2 separate regions of the Homo sapiens genome follow, and region 2 is linked to region 1. The links come from fine-mapping of genetic effects on gene expression. Tissue or cell type: prefrontal cortex. Region 1 holds a variant in brackets; the other region holds the start of a gene. All regions are shown on one strand. Distances are between the middles of the regions.

What was found. PIP is the estimated chance that this variant, and not a neighbour inherited with it, causes the effect.
Region 2: it holds the start of ASRGL1, and the variant in region 1 is fine-mapped to the expression of ASRGL1 in prefrontal cortex (ROSMAP, PIP 0.95).

The regions. Positions count from the first base shown.
Region 1 is chr11:62,387,601-62,395,703 of GRCh38, forward strand. ASRGL1 (asparaginase and isoaspartyl peptidase 1) reads left to right here. Exons shown (of 7, transcript NM_001083926.2): 5 at 1,533-1,651; 6 at 3,922-4,032; 7 at 4,479-5,812. The coding sequence ends at 4,684. Among named protein-coding and RNA genes, the nearest start is that of SCGB1A1, 27 kb to the right of the region's middle. RefSeq lists enhancers at 7,271-7,340, 7,451-7,500. The variant CAAAAAAA/C (reference allele first, on the strand shown) is at 4,968.
Region 2 is chr11:62,334,046-62,342,148 of GRCh38, forward strand. ASRGL1 (asparaginase and isoaspartyl peptidase 1) reads left to right here and starts at 3,403. Exons shown (of 7, transcript NM_001083926.2): 1 at 3,403-3,529; 2 at 3,845-4,122. The coding sequence starts at 3,933. RefSeq lists an enhancer at 3,314-3,983.

The sequences.
Region 1 (8,103 bases):
AGCTGGGATGGCATGATTGCCCCTCTGTCCTGCAGAGACACTCTGTGTAAAACAGCACCTCCCCACCATCACTCTTCCCTGGTGCTTCTTTGTTTTTTTGTTTGGGTTTTTTGTTTTTTTGTTTTGTTTTTGTCACCTGACATATTATTGCCCTGTTACTACCACCCTCTACCCCAAATGCAGGCTCCATGGGAGAAAGGACTTTGTTTAGCTTTACCACTGTGTCCCAGCACTTAAAACAATGCCTCAAATATAATTCATTATAGAACCTTGCTGGTGGGTATGCTGGGGTGTTCGTGTACAATTTGTTCAACTGTGTTACAGTCACGCGTCTCATGACAGGACAAGAAATGCATCCTGAGAAATGCATAGTTGGGCAATTTCATGGCCATGCAAACATCATAGGGGTGCACTCACACAAACCCAGATAGGAGAGACTAATACACATCTAGGCTATGTGGTCCGGCCTGTTGCTGCTACGCTACACACCTGTGCAGCATGTGACTGTCCTGAATCCTCTAGGCAGTTGTCACACAATGGTAAGTACTTGTGTATCTAAACATAGAAGTACAGTAAAAATAGAGGATTATAATCTCATGGGACCACCATCCTATATGCAGTCTGTTGATCAAAACATCATAGGTGGCACATGACTGTATTCGAGAATTCATAATAAAATGTTAGGGGAAAATTAACGGATTTGATCTTTACGACAACCCCATGCACAGGGTCCATAGGCAGGCAGCATCAGCGACACCCGGGAGGTTGTCAGAAACGCAGGATCAGCCAGGCACAGTGGCTCACGCCTGTAACCCCAGCACTTTGGGAGTCCAAGGCAGGCGTATCACCTGAGCTCAGAGGTTTGAGACCAGCCTGGCCAAGATGATGATGAAACCCTGTCTCTACTAAAAATATAAAAATTACCCAGGTGTGGTGGTGCATGCCTGTAGTCCCAGCTACTTGGGAGGCTGAGGCAGGAGAATCACTTGAACCCGGGAGGCAGAGGTTGCCGTGAGCCAAGATTGTGCCACTGCACTGCAGCCTGGGCGACAAAGTGAGACTTCATCTCAAAAAAAAAAAAAAAAAAAAAGCAGGATTTTGGGTCCCAGCCTGTATCTACCAAGTCACTTTTTCCTTTCCTTTCTCCTCTTGGTGGCAGCTTCAGAGTCTCTGTGGGCCCAAGCACCCCAGGAATTCTTATACACACTAAAGTTTGAGAAGCACTCTTACTTTTATCCCCATTTTATGATGGGGACAAAGAGACACAAAATAAAACTTAGCATCACAGCTAGAAAACGGTGGTGTTGGGATTGGATGTACTCTTAAAGCTGAGGTGTGGAGGAGTGTCCAGCAATCCACCTGTAACTTACACGTAGAATGAGAAGCAGCAGGTTCTTTCTAGAATGTTGGAATTAAATGGGTGCCCCATCAACATATAACATGAAACTTTAAGTGGTTTTAAGGTACATTGTTGGTTATGGTGTTCATTCTCATTTTCAGCCTGTCACTTTTTTTCTGTTTATTTTTGGCAGAAACTTGGGAACCGTGGGTGCTGTTGCCTTGGACTGCAAAGGGAATGTAGCCTACGCAACCTCCACAGGCGGTATCGTTAATAAAATGGTCGGCCGCGTTGGGGACTCACCGTGTCTAGGTAGGACCAAGGGATGCCTCCTGCCCCTTCCCCTCTTCTCCCGCCCTCAGGCTTTCCTCACTCTCTATTCCCTGCCCCTCTCCGTTTCTTGCTGCGTTCCCTTTCTGCTTTTGGTGCAGCTCCAGGATGTCTGGGAGTGACAATGGGGTTGGAAGGGGTTGTTCGGGGTGCTGCCTTGAGAGGGTGTTTGTATCTGGCGCCACTGTTTTTACTAGATTGCATGCCTTTTTGGAACAACTTGGGGAGAGAAGTGGAGACAGGGATGCTAACGTTGCCCCCAGTCTACCCTGTCGTGATTCTGTCTTCTCTTTAGCCACAGTTTCAGGATCTGCAGACTTACTTGAGTAAGACTTACTCCCGAGACATGGGCTCTGATTAGCAATCTGAGAAATCTGAGACTGCAGTTGTTAGATCTGAGCAGCATGAAAGTGACATACTTCTACAGACACATTATAGATTGAGATGTTGTTTACATTAACGGGGAAGCACGCCATCTCATTCCCAGGAGTGGGTGAGAGGCAGGGCTGGGGGGCTGTATGTTTCACTCCGTGCAGACTTTCACACTTGTCATGCAGGAATCCTCATGAACCCCCACAGGTGACTGAAGTTTTGAGAAGCAGCTAAATTGTTCCATCTGCCCTAAAGAGCAGCTTATTCTTTTAGAGGAAAACTAGCCCTACCTTCCCTTTTTAATGTGTTGCTCTAGTCTTTAGTAATAATCTACACTCTCGACAATTCTTGATACCCTTTTTCTGTCATGAACTCAGAGACACTGGAAGCTTCCTTAAAAAGAGTAGAGGCTTGGTAACTCCTCTTCTCCTTGGTATATCACCCAAGAGATGTGAAGTAGTCTACCTTTCTTTCTCCTTGGCAAAAATCCCACCAAACTGTGCCTGGTCAGTAGTGCAGCTTGCTTCAGCTGCGTTCAGACCAGGCCACAGGGCCACTCCAGGTTAGATCCTAGAAATTAATTTTAAGCTTGAGTTACAGTGGTAAATCTTGACAAGAAAAGGCATAAGCTAAATTCTCAGAACTCTCTGTCCAGCTGTGAGCACCAGGTGTGCTCTGCCTGGCCTTCTGAGGAGCCTCCCCAAGGAGCACTGCCACTGGCCAGGCCCCTGCCTGGACAGTCATGGGGGACGGTACTAGGCTCAGCAGTGGTCACCTCAGGCAATGCACTTGTCCTGAGAAGTGCATGTGGCGGGGAGGACAGCTTCACACGCCCGATGCCTGTGCCAGGACCACCCTTGGAGACACCTGGCCTTCTGTGGTCCTAGAGTAACTGAAAAGTAAGCAAAGACTTGGCTGCTTCCAAATATTAGGGCACTTTGACACCATGGAACCCGGTCAGTTAATTCCCCAGCAGAAGCTTATAAGAAAAAGTAAAGGCGCCTCCTCCCACTGCAGCAGTTCATTGGCTGTCCAGTGTCAGCTCCCTCCAGAACCAGAGCCAGGGATTATCTGCCTTTGAGAACCTCTGGGGCCTTGTGACAATCCAATGCAGCATCTCAACTCCTGAGTCCTTGCCCCATGTCCAGCATCAATAAGTAAGGCAAATGTCAATCTTCTGTGCTTCTGTATCAACTGTGGGAGGGTAAAGGCGAATCCTTCCAAGGCTAAAGGACTCTGAGGCTGGTAGCTGTGTGTGAACAGATACAAGAATGACTCAGAGAAGGCTGTAAGGTTGCTTAATCCAAGCCCAAAATAAGGAAGAAATCTTATCAAAGTAGCTTTCACTCCAGACCCCCACTTAAGTGGATAGCCCAGAATAGTTCCCTCAGGTCCAATTATGCCCACCCTCAACAAATATAACTGCCCTCCATTAGACAGTGTGCATGGATGTTAGGTTGTGGGTATCATTTTCCCCAAATCACTGGAACATGATGGCCTTGCTAGAGATCCATATAATGCAGTCATGCTGTTTCTTCCTCCATAGTGTGTGGGGCATGAGGAGGAGACAGGGAGAGGGTGGCTTCATTGAGCAAAAAGGAATGGCTGTGCTTTGGGGCCAAGGAGATGCTGTCCTGCTGTAGCTGCTCTGTGAAAGGTCAGGCCTGCCCCTCTGAGGCTCCCTTTATCCTCCTAAATTCTGGGGCATCTACATGACGCTTTCTAGTCCACCTTTGCCTCCGCAGATCATGGCTACTAACCTGACCTTTGTCGGTACTTGAGCACCCTTCGCGATTTAACTTTCATGTAGCGTCCGACTTCTAATATGGATTTGAATTTCTTGACTGTTACTGCTCAGAACAATCACCCTTTTTGAGCAGGAGCTGGAGGTTATGCCGACAATGACATCGGAGCCGTCTCAACCACAGGGCATGGGGAAAGCATCCTGAAGGTGAACCTGGCTAGACTCACCCTGTTCCACATAGAACAAGGTACACAGACCACAGGACAAGTAAAATAATTTGTGAAGATAAGTGCATAGAAGGTATTTGATAAGTAAGCGCATGGAGAAGTGTAGGAAACCCTTTCCTGTTGGCTACAGATGTTGCTTTCAGGCCGTTAACACCTTGTTTTGACTCTCCGCCTTCCCTTAGGTCTGGAATGGTAGAGCATTGAGTACTGTTATCTTCCACATCTCAGGAGAAGGGGGCAGTAGAGAGACATTGAGCCTGGATGTGGGAGGGAAGACCCCTCTGCTCAGGCTGATGCTAGGGCGCTGTCTCAGGGCAAGGAGGTGAGGACCCTCCTTTTAAGCATTCAGGCGTTCATTTACCAAAAATCCTTGCTAGCTCACTTTGGCATTTCAAATGGCAAGTGATTTTCCCATGAGATTCCTTTCAGTAATGTGTGTTGTTTCTCAACCCTTCCTTGTTTTCAGGAAAGACGGTAGAAGAGGCTGCGGACCTATCGTTGGGTTATATGAAGTCAAGGGTTAAAGGTTTAGGTGGCCTCATCGTGGTTAGCAAAACAGGAGACTGGGTGGCAAAGTGGACCTCCACCTCCATGCCCTGGGCAGCCGCCAAGGACGGCAAGCTGCACTTCGGAATTGATCCTGACGATACTACTATCACCGACCTTCCCTAAGCCGCTGGAAGATTGTATTCCAGATGCTAGCTTAGAGGTCAAGTACAGTCTCCTCATGAGACATAGCCTAATCAATTAGATCTAGAATTGGAAAAATTGTCCCGTCTGTCACTTGTTTTGTTGCCTTAATAAGCATCTGAATGTTTGGTTGTGGGGCGGGTTCTGAAGCGATGAGAGAAATGCCCGTATTAGGAGGATTACTTGAGCCCAGGAGGTCAAAGCTGAGGTGAGCCATGATTACTCCACTGCACTCCAGCCTGGGCAACAGAGCCAGGCCCTGTAT[CAAAAAAA/C]AAAAAAAAAAGAAAAGGGAAAAAAGAAAGAAAGCAGCAGCATGATCCTGACATGACAGATGTGGGAGACCCACAGCCTGCAGACACTGTGGGCTGGAAGGTGGGAAGGGAGGGGCCGGTGGAGGTGGAGCTGTTTGAAAGTGACACAGCAGCAGTAGAAGCAGTGGTGGGCGAAGCCCAGGTGACCCTCAGAACGTTGCACAAGAACATCAGGGAAAAGAACCAGAATCCTTTAAGGAAAATGTTCTTCATGTATGAGAGACTAAAGTGATTTTTCTAAGAAAGTTCAGCCCTTCTCTGACTTACCTGGACATTTCTAGATACTTCCAAAGGACCCTCTGGGAATCCATAGCTTCCTAATCTGGAGATGGGAGGTCATAAGGGAGACGCTGTGGGGTTCCTTGAAGTTTCTTGGGTTCACAGAGGAGCCCCCTCACTTGGTGTTCTCCCGTGAGCCAGCCTCCACCTGCCAAAGACACTCTGGTCCTCGTATAGTGAGTAATGGGGCTCAGGGCCTCTCCAACAACAGAGAGGAGCTGATGCTGTAGGGCTGACCCCGTGACTTCCTGAGTCCTCACCCTGTCCAGTGCTTTGAGATTCTTCCCACCTCCCCATCCTCACCAGCCGGATCGGGCGCTGTGCAGTGTGGTCAGCATGGTGAAGAAAGTCATTTCCTCGGTGGGCAGTATTCCTCTTTATCTCTCATTACACTGGAAATGTTATTTCTGCTGTATCATCCGTGCTCAACGTTTTAGTCTGTCAGGCTCACCTTCTCTCTGGAAAGAATTTGCTTAACTTGACATTCCATGTGCCGCTAATAAAATATATTTTGAAAGAATAAGGGTGTGGTTGGGAGTCACTGTTGACAAAGACCAGAATGTACACGAGCTCCCCCCTTGGTCTCAGGTGTACTACAGAGACCTCGAGATGAGGATGGTGTGGAGGGTGATATGTGCCACCTTGTGGAGTACTCGTGAGTTTTTCAGAAGAACTGAACTTTTTCTGAGTGGGTCAAGGAAGAAGCCAAACCATGATAGGGTTTATGGCGCAGTCTTCCTGCAGTTTGCCAGCATTCACCCCAGACAGAGGTGCACAGTAAAAACCTCAACATGCAACAACTCCCCCTTTAGAAACAAGTATTTTATTAGGAGGTGTATTAGTTGAAGATTGCCACAACACGATTCCACAGACTAAGTGACTTAACCAACAGAAATTTATTAATATTTTCTCAGCTCTGGAGGCTAAAAGTCCAAGATCAAGGTGTCGGCCACGTTGGTGTCTCCCGAGGCCTCTCTCCATGGCTTGTGTAATAGCTGGCCATCTTCTCACTGTGTCCTCACATGGTCTTTCCTCTGTACGTGCACAGCCCTGCCATCTGTCTCTATATGTCCTAATCCCCTCTTCTTATGAGGACACCATATTAGATATAATTTATATATTATAATATATAAATTATATAATATATAAGTTACAATATATCTAATATGGTATATTTATTATATATTATAATTTATACAATATATAATATATATTATAATTTACATATATATTATATATAATAAAATATATAACATTTATATAATACATATATATTATATATCATATAAATATATATACTATTATATATAATATATGATATATAATATTATATATTTTATGTATTATATATAATTTGTTATATATTATATACTATATATTATATATCATATATTGTATATATTATATATTATATAAAAATATATGATATATAATTTATAATTTATAATATATATTATATATAATATGTAAATTATAATATTAGATTAAGGTCCACCCTAATGACCTCATTTAACCTTAATCACCTCTTCAAAGGCCCTGTCTCCAAATACACTCACATGCTGAGGTACTGGGGGTTAGGGCTTCAGCATGTGAATTTGGGAGAGGACAGAATTCAGTCCATAACAGGAGGCAAAACAGAATCATGTTGGGGTTTGGAAAGGGGAGACCCTTTGGAGAAGACAACAATCGCTAAGGAGATAGAAAAAAGGAAGGAGGGAGCTGGGGGATAGGGAGGCCAGTTGGAAGATCTGGTTTTGAGCTTGTCTTACCAATTCTCCAGTTCACAAGGAAATTTACTCTAGTTATTAAAGATTACCGTAGGCTCAGCTTGTGGCCACTTGACCTCTTTAGCTGGGCAGCCCAGGTGCTAGGGTACGTATGGGGTCGTCAGCCCCTTTGTGCAAAGCCAAAGTGTGTATTTTTGCCCTCAGACCTGAGTTGTACCAAAAGCCACCTCCACCAGCCTGGGAGTTCTGTAAATGGAGACCACGTACAGTTCTTGCTTTTGCCCCACAGCTTGTCCATGGCTCACTGTCAAACAGAGAAATGAGCCTGACAGCATCTGAAAGGGGAAGACAATCTTTTTATCACTTCTGTGCCACAAGAGGGCAGCAAACTATAAACTATCCATGGCTTCAGCCGCCCAAAGGGAAGGTACTCTATCTGGATCAGAGCAGTCTATTTAGAAAATTTGGAACCAAAAGAACATTCCTCTTCCTGACCTTCATTTTCGTCCAAATACTACAATTTATTTTAGAGCAGAATTGTCCAAAACACAAACGCTAGCAAATGGCCCGAAGAACCCACCCAGATCAACAGTGGAAGCTCGCTCTGCCCTGGGCGCTGCCAGATGCCGGATGCCAGATCCCACGGTGAACAAGCTCTGGCAGCCCGGCCCCGCCCCCACTTGCTCCTTCCAGCCAGGAAGACAGATACATCGTCATGTGGCTCACCCACCAAAATGGTGGGATAATAAGGAGCACAAGACGGGCCCTGAGCCAAGGCCAAGTGTCCCCAAGCAGGAGTTGCTGCAGTCAGGACTCAGCCCCACTGCTGGGCTGCAGAGAAGAGTCCTGGGTAAGGAAGGGCCTTGATCTCGTAGCTGTTGCATAATACACATTTTTCTCAAATAATATTCCTAGACTTCTTCCTCTCTAGCTTGAGGGATTGTAAACTCTGAGACCAAAGGAAGGAGTGGGGCACACGTTAGTCCCCTTCAGTGTCCTGTTGTCAGAGGTGATGGTGTGTGGGGAAGGCTGGGAAGGGACACTCGTTCTTCCCGCCCCCCACCTGCTCCTCTGAAGTCCTCCC
Region 2 (8,103 bases), 54 kb before region 1:
TGAACAAATTCATGGGTACTAAATCTCCTAAATAAGCTCAGGGATCTCAGAGTTGAAACGTATGTGTCCCGCTTCTTGTTTGAAAGCGAAGCTCAAGATAGGAAGGTGGCAGGCTCAAGATACTGTTACACATTCTAGAATTTGGAGGGAGTCTCACAGATTCCCATCCTGCCCCCAGTGGGGTCAGCCAAAAGCCTTTTCCTCATGTAGCTGAGACTGGTGGGGATGGGAAGTTGCTAGGCAGTAAGAACGTAGTAAAGGCAGCCTGCCAGTTCCCCAGTGGACCTTCAGAAAATGTTAGTTGCGGCCAGGTGTAGTGGCTCACACCTGTAATCCCAGCACTTTGGGAGGCCAAGGTGGGCAAATCGCTTGAGGTCAGGAGTTCGAGACCAGCGTAGCCAAGATGTTGAAATCCCATCCCTACTAAAAATACAAAAATTAGCTGGGCGTGGTGGTGCATGCCTGTAATCCCAGATACTTGGGTGGCTGAAGCAGGAGAATCATGTCTGAGCCTCGGGAGATGGAGATTATAGTCAGCCAAGATCGCACCACTATACTCCAGCCTGGGCAACAGAGCGAGACTCCGTCTCAAAGAAGAAAGAAAGAAAGGAAAGAAAGGGAAGGAAGGGAAGGAAAGGAAGGAAATGTTAGTTGCTTCTTTCTTTTTTTCTTCTCTTCCTCCCTCCCACCCCCATTTCTTCTTCGTCAATCTCTCTAATATGCCTCCTTCATTTCTGACCCAGAAATGCCCAGTCCCTGCCCAGTCCCTCCTTTTCTGGTCCCACCTCCTCTCCCCAACTCTGGCATTCCCTAACCCAACCCTCCTCCTCCTAGAACATCCAGAGCCACTGTAGTTAGAATCACTTCCTTGGGGCTCTAGTCAACCTCCCCAGTCACACAAATGGGTTACTCCTCCCTTCAAAAATCCCTCTAAAATGATAGTAAACAATCTTAAAAAGAATACTACCCACAAAGACAGGAAGAATGGGAGAGATGACAATGGCAGGTAAAAAAGGTCACTTTGGAAGATGAATAACAAATGGCAGATTAAAGGAAGTTGTAATCTACTTGAGAGGTGAATCCATTTGTTCTGGAGAACGCTTGAGAGACTCAGGGCTTAGACACACAGGAATCTCAAAGATGGGGAGGCAGGAGTGGCAGGTGTTCCCAGTTGTCTCTCCAATAGCCTGTCACCCTTCCTTCTTGCCAAGAGACCTTGATTTTATCCAGGGCCATGATGTACCCTGCTAAAATAAAAACTCAGACTCTCTTGCCACTAGGGGCAGCCCCCCAATCCAGTTCTGGCCAATAAAAGTCCACTTGGAGGACTTCTAGGAAAGCTAGAGAGCTTTCCTGAATTAAAGGAACAAAGGGGAGCTGGCAAAAGCCTTCTTCCCTTTGCCCTTCCCCATTCCTTCTGCCCCAATAGTGATCAAGGTGCCTAGGAGCACCATAAATGTGAAAGCCACATGCTGAAGGGAAGAGAAGGAGATGGGACATCTGTGTCACCTTGGAGCTGCTGCACCAGCCTGGGCAGCAACCACTAGATGTCTTGTTGTTGTTGTTGTTGTTGTTGTTGTTATTGTTGTTTTCAAATCAACAGTTATCTGGTTAAACCACTGTGGTCACGTTTCGTCAGGGACAGTTGAATACAATCCTTAATCCATAAAATGATTGTTGATGGAACATCGTCTACAGAGGAGTTAGCCAGATTCCTTCTCCTATCCCACAGAGCCGGACAAAAAGATGCTTCCTCTTTCCTCCTCAAAGACCAGAAGTTTATTTTCTAGAGAATTTATCTAAGAGACTTTGGATTGGGATGGGGAATACGAAGCCCATCAGAGAAGTAGATAAACGCATGAGGCTGAGATGGGAGGATCAAATGGAAACCAACATTCTACCTGCTTGGGCCACCAGCCACCTTCCCCAGCCTCAGCCAGATCACTGAATTCCAGATCAATCAGGAAAAACAGTAGAGATGGGGTTTGAGTTAGGGCTAGGCATAGGGTAGGGTTCAGGTTCCTATAAATAGCTGAAACCAAATGATGGTGAGCTGTATTATGATGACACAACTAGGCTCACGACCAGTTGAGACGTGCTAAAATAACCCTCTTCCAAGAGGTGAGTGTGGGAGACAGAATAACGGCCCTCAAAGGTGTCACATCCGAATCTCCACCTGTGAACACTCCTCACATGGCAAAAGGGACTTTGCAGATGAGAATAGAAATTGTAAGAAAGGGAGATTATCCTGGGTTATCTGGGTGGGCCCAATGTCATCCCAAGGGACTTCCTTTAAGAAGGAGGCAGGAGAGTCAGAGTCAGAAAAGAAAATCGTGATGATGGTGACAGAGAGAGAAGTGACGTAGCAGCAGAAACAGGCCAGAGGGAGAGAGAGTTAAAGATGCTAGGCTGTTGGCTTTGGCAATGGAGGATGAGGCCATGAGCCAAGGATACAGGCAGCTTGTAGAAGCAAGAAAAGACAGATTCTCTTCTGGAGCTTCCCGAAGGAACTCAACCCTGCAGACCCAGTTTGAATTTCTGACCACCAGAACTGTAAGATAATGTGTGTTGTTTGAAGCCAATAAATTTGTGGTAATCTCTAACAATAGGTCACTAGAAAGGGAATGACTGATCCTTAGTGGGGTGCCAGGGAGAAGGCTTTGCAGGAGGGGTTCATTTAAACTGGGCCTTAAGGCAGGAAACGAAGGTAAAACAGGAGTAAAGGGAATTCCCAAGAGTGGTAAAATATGTTATCAGTTGTGGGTAAACAAGAAGGGAAAGGACTCTCCTATCCACAGGAGATCAATCACAGTTTGCCTGGATCTGTCCCTGTTTATGCCCATTGTCCCAGTATAATTTTTTTTTCTTTTGATTCGGAGTTTCACTCTTGTTGCCCAGGCTGGAGTGCAATGGCGCGATTTCCACTCACCGCAACCTCCGCCTCCCAGGTTCAAACGATTCTCGTGCCTTAGCCTCCAGAGTAGCTGGGATTACAGGCATGCGCCACCACGCCCAGCTAATTTTGTGTTTTTAGTAGGGACAGGGTTTCTCCGTGTTGGTCAGGCTGGTCTCGAACTCCCGACCTCAGGTGATCCGTCCGCCTCGGCCTCTCAAAGTGCTGGGATTACAAGGCATGAGCCACTGCGCACAGCCTAGCGTTGCTTTTCAATCTGCAATTACAAAATCGTGGCATGCCACTTCACGCTTCTCGCCACCAACCCAACCACCCAGCCCCTAGCCTGGTCAGGAGCAGGAGGTTCCCCGCGTGCCACCAGGAAGCTCGGGCCGGCCAAGAGCGTAGACTCTTGAGAGGAGTGAGACAGGTGCGCGCCAGCCGGCCTTCGGGGCTTTATGGGAACTGGGCCGTGCGGCGGTCCCGCCCTCGTGCGCAGGCGCAGAACCGTTGTGACCAGAGCGGTTGCGGGCTGAGCGGTTTCGAGCCGGCGTCGGGGAGCGGCGGTACCGGGCGGCTGCGGGGCTGGCTCGACCCAGCTTGAGGTCTCGGCGTCCGCGTCCTGCGGTGCCCTGGGTAAGTCGGCGGCCCTCCCGGAGCAGCCGCCCGAGACGCGGGAGGGCGAATGAAATAAACGAAAATAGACATTTTCCCGAAGGCGAAATAGACATCCTCCTTCGGCGCCGGGGCTTGGAGGCGGGCGGCGGTGGGCGCGGGTTAACGTCCCCGGGGAAACTGAGACCCCCAGCAGGTCCGGGCCGGGGGCGGAGAGGAACGCGGGAGGGCGCCGGGCCCCTGGGCTTTTCGTACCAAGCTCGACCGAGCCGCCCCTACCCACCCCCAGCTGCGAACCCAGCCGTTCAGAACAGAGACTGGGCATTGTCCCCACAGGGTCTCCCGAGGACCTTGTACCCGCGCGGCTTCCTTGGGCTGGCTTTGGACGACGCTTTCGCCTTCCTGCTGCCTAGGATCCGCCGACATGAATCCCATCGTAGTGGTCCACGGCGGCGGAGCCGGTCCCATCTCCAAGGATCGGAAGGAGCGAGTGCACCAGGGCATGGTCAGAGCCGCCACCGTGGGCTACGGCATCCTCCGGGAGGGCGGGAGCGCCGTGGATGCCGTAGAGGGAGCTGTCGTCGCCCTGGAAGACGATCCCGAGTTCAACGCAGGTAAATGTGCCTTTCAGCTAGTAAATAATGTGAGTCAGGTCAAGCTCCTTCTTCAGAATAAATAGAACCTACATAGTGTTAGGGAATCTAATGAGCTTTGGGGTGAAACTAAGTATGTAAAAAAGAAACAATATTTAATTTTTCTACCTGTGCTGAAAAGAGTCAAACGCTAAAATATTTGTAGAGATTTATACTGAGGCAAATATGAGTGACCAATGGCCTCTGATACAGCTCTTGGGAAATCCTGAGAATGTGTGCTTCTGGAGAGACATAAGATGTCAATCAGTACATACAAGACATACATTGGTTCCATCTGGAGAGGTGAGACTACTGGGGGAGGGGGAGTGGTTTCCAGGTCATAGTTAAGATTCAAAGATTTTCTGATGAACAATTGATTTAAAGTTTTGTCCAAACACCTGGAATCCACAGAAGGGAATGTCTGGATTATATAAGGACTTGTGGCTGCAGATAGAATTAATAGAAGGCGGTTTAGCACGGTGGCTCACGCCTGTAATCCCAGCACTTTGGGAGGCCAAGGCGGGTGGATCACCTGAGGTCAGGAGTTCGAGACCAGCCTGGCTAACAGGTGAAAAGCCACCTCTACTAAAAATACAAAAGAAAAAAAAAAAAAGCCAGGCGTGGTGCTAGGAGCCTGTAACCCCAGCTACTCGGGAGGCCGAGGCAGGAGAATAGCTTGAACCTGAGAGGCAGAGGTTGCAGTGAGCCGAGATCACTCCAGCCTGGGCGACAGAGCGAGACTATCTCAAAAAAAAAAAAAAAAACTGAAAAAAGAAGGGAATGTCTGCATTAAGATAAGAGGTTGAGGAGACCAAGATTTCCCTTAGGCAGAGGAAGTCTCCAGGTAGCAGTCTATTGAGAGAATAAATTGTAAATGTTTCTTATCAGAGTTGATTCTCTCCTGAATCAGGAAAAAGGCCTAGAAAAGGAAGGGGATTCTCTTCAGAATGTAGATTTTCCCCACAAGAGATAGCTTTAGCTTTGCAGGACTATTTCAAGATATGGCGAAGAAACGTAATTTGGGGTAAAATACTTCACTTTCAGGGCTTGCTATCTGTCATGTGATGTCATACTAGAGTCCCGCTGGAATTTGGTATCTTATTGCTACAAAGTCTGCTTTGTCAGTCTTAAGATCTGTTTTAATGTTAGTGCTGGTCAGCTGGGCCTGAATTCCAAAAGGGAGGAGGGAATAATGAGGCATGTCCTACCTCCCCCGACAAGGTTCCAAAGTTTTCAGGTTAACTTTGGAGTGCAGAGTGTATTCCTTTGTGTTTCGCTTCTTTCACTCAGTCCACCCTTTTTTGGAATACTAATCATTATAGCTAATATGAGTATCTACCATGTATCAGGCAGTGGTCTAAGAAATTTGCTTGATTTATTGAATCTGAACATTAAATGAGTTGATCATGTAACTCTCTTAAGTTGGTTAACTTGTGTTAAACTAACTCAAGTTAACTCATAATGAACATTAAATGATTCACTTATGAGTTAATCACTTAAACTCAGTTGAGTTAAATGAGTTAGGTATAAGTTAGGCATAATTATTATCCTCATTTCTCAGATCAGACTAAGGCATAAACAGATTAACTTGGTGGAAGACATTCATCTCTTTGTTTTAAAATGGCAAACCTAAGATCTAGGCTAGAGATTGAAATACTTCCTGGAATTATACCACCCATCTGTCAGGGAAAAGAATTTCAGGAAATCTTAATTAATCATCAAATATTTACTCTTGTTCTGTCCCCTTTACGCAGCACTCTTTAACACTTGTGAAAAATTGTGTAATTCTTCCTGAGACCGGTGCAGTGGCTCACGCCTGTAATCCCAGCACTTTGGAAAGCTGAGGTGGGCGGATCACTTGAGCTCAGGAGTTCAATGCCAGGCTAGGCAACATGGCAAAACCCCATCTCTACAAAAAAAAAAAAATACAAAAATCAGCTGAGCGTGGTGGCACAAGCCTGTAGCCGCCGCTACTCAGGAAGCTGAGGTAGGAAGATTCCTTGAGCCCCAGGAGGTCAAGGCTGCAATGAGCCAAGACTGCGCCACTGCACTCCAGCCTGGGTGACAGAGTGAGACTCTGTCTCTGAAAATAAAATTAAGTTCATCTGAATTTAAAATGAGACCTAATAGTGTGCTTTCATGGCTCCATTTGTAGAGCCAGAATTTACCAGATAGGCACTGACTTTGCCAGCAGAGGGAGCAGCCAGCTCTTTCTGTGGGTGACTTGTTAAACCTTACGCTTCTTAGCACTCAGCACCCCCTGGGCTGTCAAACCCTCACTTATTTACACAGGACCTTCATTTGAAATGGGTCATTCTGGTTTCCGACCATCTCTTATTCTAACAATTTGTCATCTGCATGCATTGGGAAGCACAGATTAGGGAATTGGAGCAGCTAGTTCTCATTTTTTTGCTCTGTATCCAGAGGCCTTCCTTCTCAACGTCTGCCCTCTCATCTTTCAAATGTCCTCTATTCCGCATATTGAGGAAGAAAAGAGTAGAGCTGAAAAGAGGGAAAGCAAAGATTATGGGGGGAAAGGTGGGACTTTTAACAGCGTACTGTGGACCTTGGCTTTTCCCAGCCAAGGTCACTACCGGCAAGCAATATTCCCAGCATCCTCTGCTATAATCCTCTAGAATAAATAACTGTTTGGGAACTTCATACAAAAAGCTGACTCCCAGTAGGTATTGAGTTCAGTGGCAGTAATTAGCATTCATGACACAACTTGCCTGAACATTTGTAAAAACATTATGTTTATTTACATTCTATTCCTGTTTCAGTGTGCATTTGACTTTATGTCAAATTGAAAAGTGGTTGATTTTTAGATACCAACACTGTAAAGACTGAACTTTTAAATTTGAATGCTAGGAATATTCTTTAAAAACTTACTTAGATTGGCAACCAAATGACCATTTGCTTTCACTGGAGCTCAGCGATATTTACACAGCACTTGAGATATTCTCTCTACAATTCAATTTACAAGCTATTAGAGAATCTTTGAGATAACAGGATTTTTTTTTTTTTTTTTTTTGAGACTGAGTCTCGCTCTGTCACCCAGGCTGGAGTGCAGTGGCACAGTTTCGGCTCACTGCAAGCTCCACCTCTCAGGTTCAAGCGATTCTCCTGCCTCAGCCTCTCGAGTAGCTGGGACTATAGGCACCCACCACCAGGACCAGCTAATTTTTAGTATTTTTAGTAGAGACGGGGTTTCACTGTGTTAGCCAGGATGGTCTTGGATCTCCTGACTTCATGATCCGCCCACCTCAGCCTCCCAAAGTGCTGGGATTACAGGTGTGAGCCACCACGCCCGGCTGAAAACAGGATTTTTTTCATTTATCCAGTCTCTTTCTGGACTTACAATGTAGAATCAATAAGGTAAAAATCTGTAGTGGGGTCTAGGAATTGGTATTCATTTCTTTGTTTTGAAGATTCCCAGGTGATTCTGAGATACAACCAGGTTTAGAATCTACTAGCCTAATACCATACAATTTTAATGGGTTTGGTGTTGGTTTGTTGGTATAATTTGCATATAGTAAGATCCCCTTTTTAGTATACAGTTCCATGACAGAGACATATAGTCATGTAACTGCCACCACAATCAAGATATAAACCAGTTACATTACTCTCCCACATCCCTTTGAGTCCACGCCTCCATTCACTCCCAGCCCCTGGCAACAACTAATCTGTTTACTATTCCTGTAGTTTTGTCATTTCCAGGATGTCGTATGTTTGAAATGTTTGTTTTTTGGTGCTGTAAAGAAATAGTATTCGAACATTAATTTATTTTATTTAGTAAGGCCGTTTTTATTTTTTGTTGAAAGGGTACACTTGTCAGCAGTTTTGTCCCAAGAGTATACTGAACAAAGGAGACAGGGTTATTTATAACCTGACGCATTTACCCTACTGCTGTGTCCGGTTTCTATTGGCTGAAACGGGACCTTACATTTTCTATTTGTTTCGATT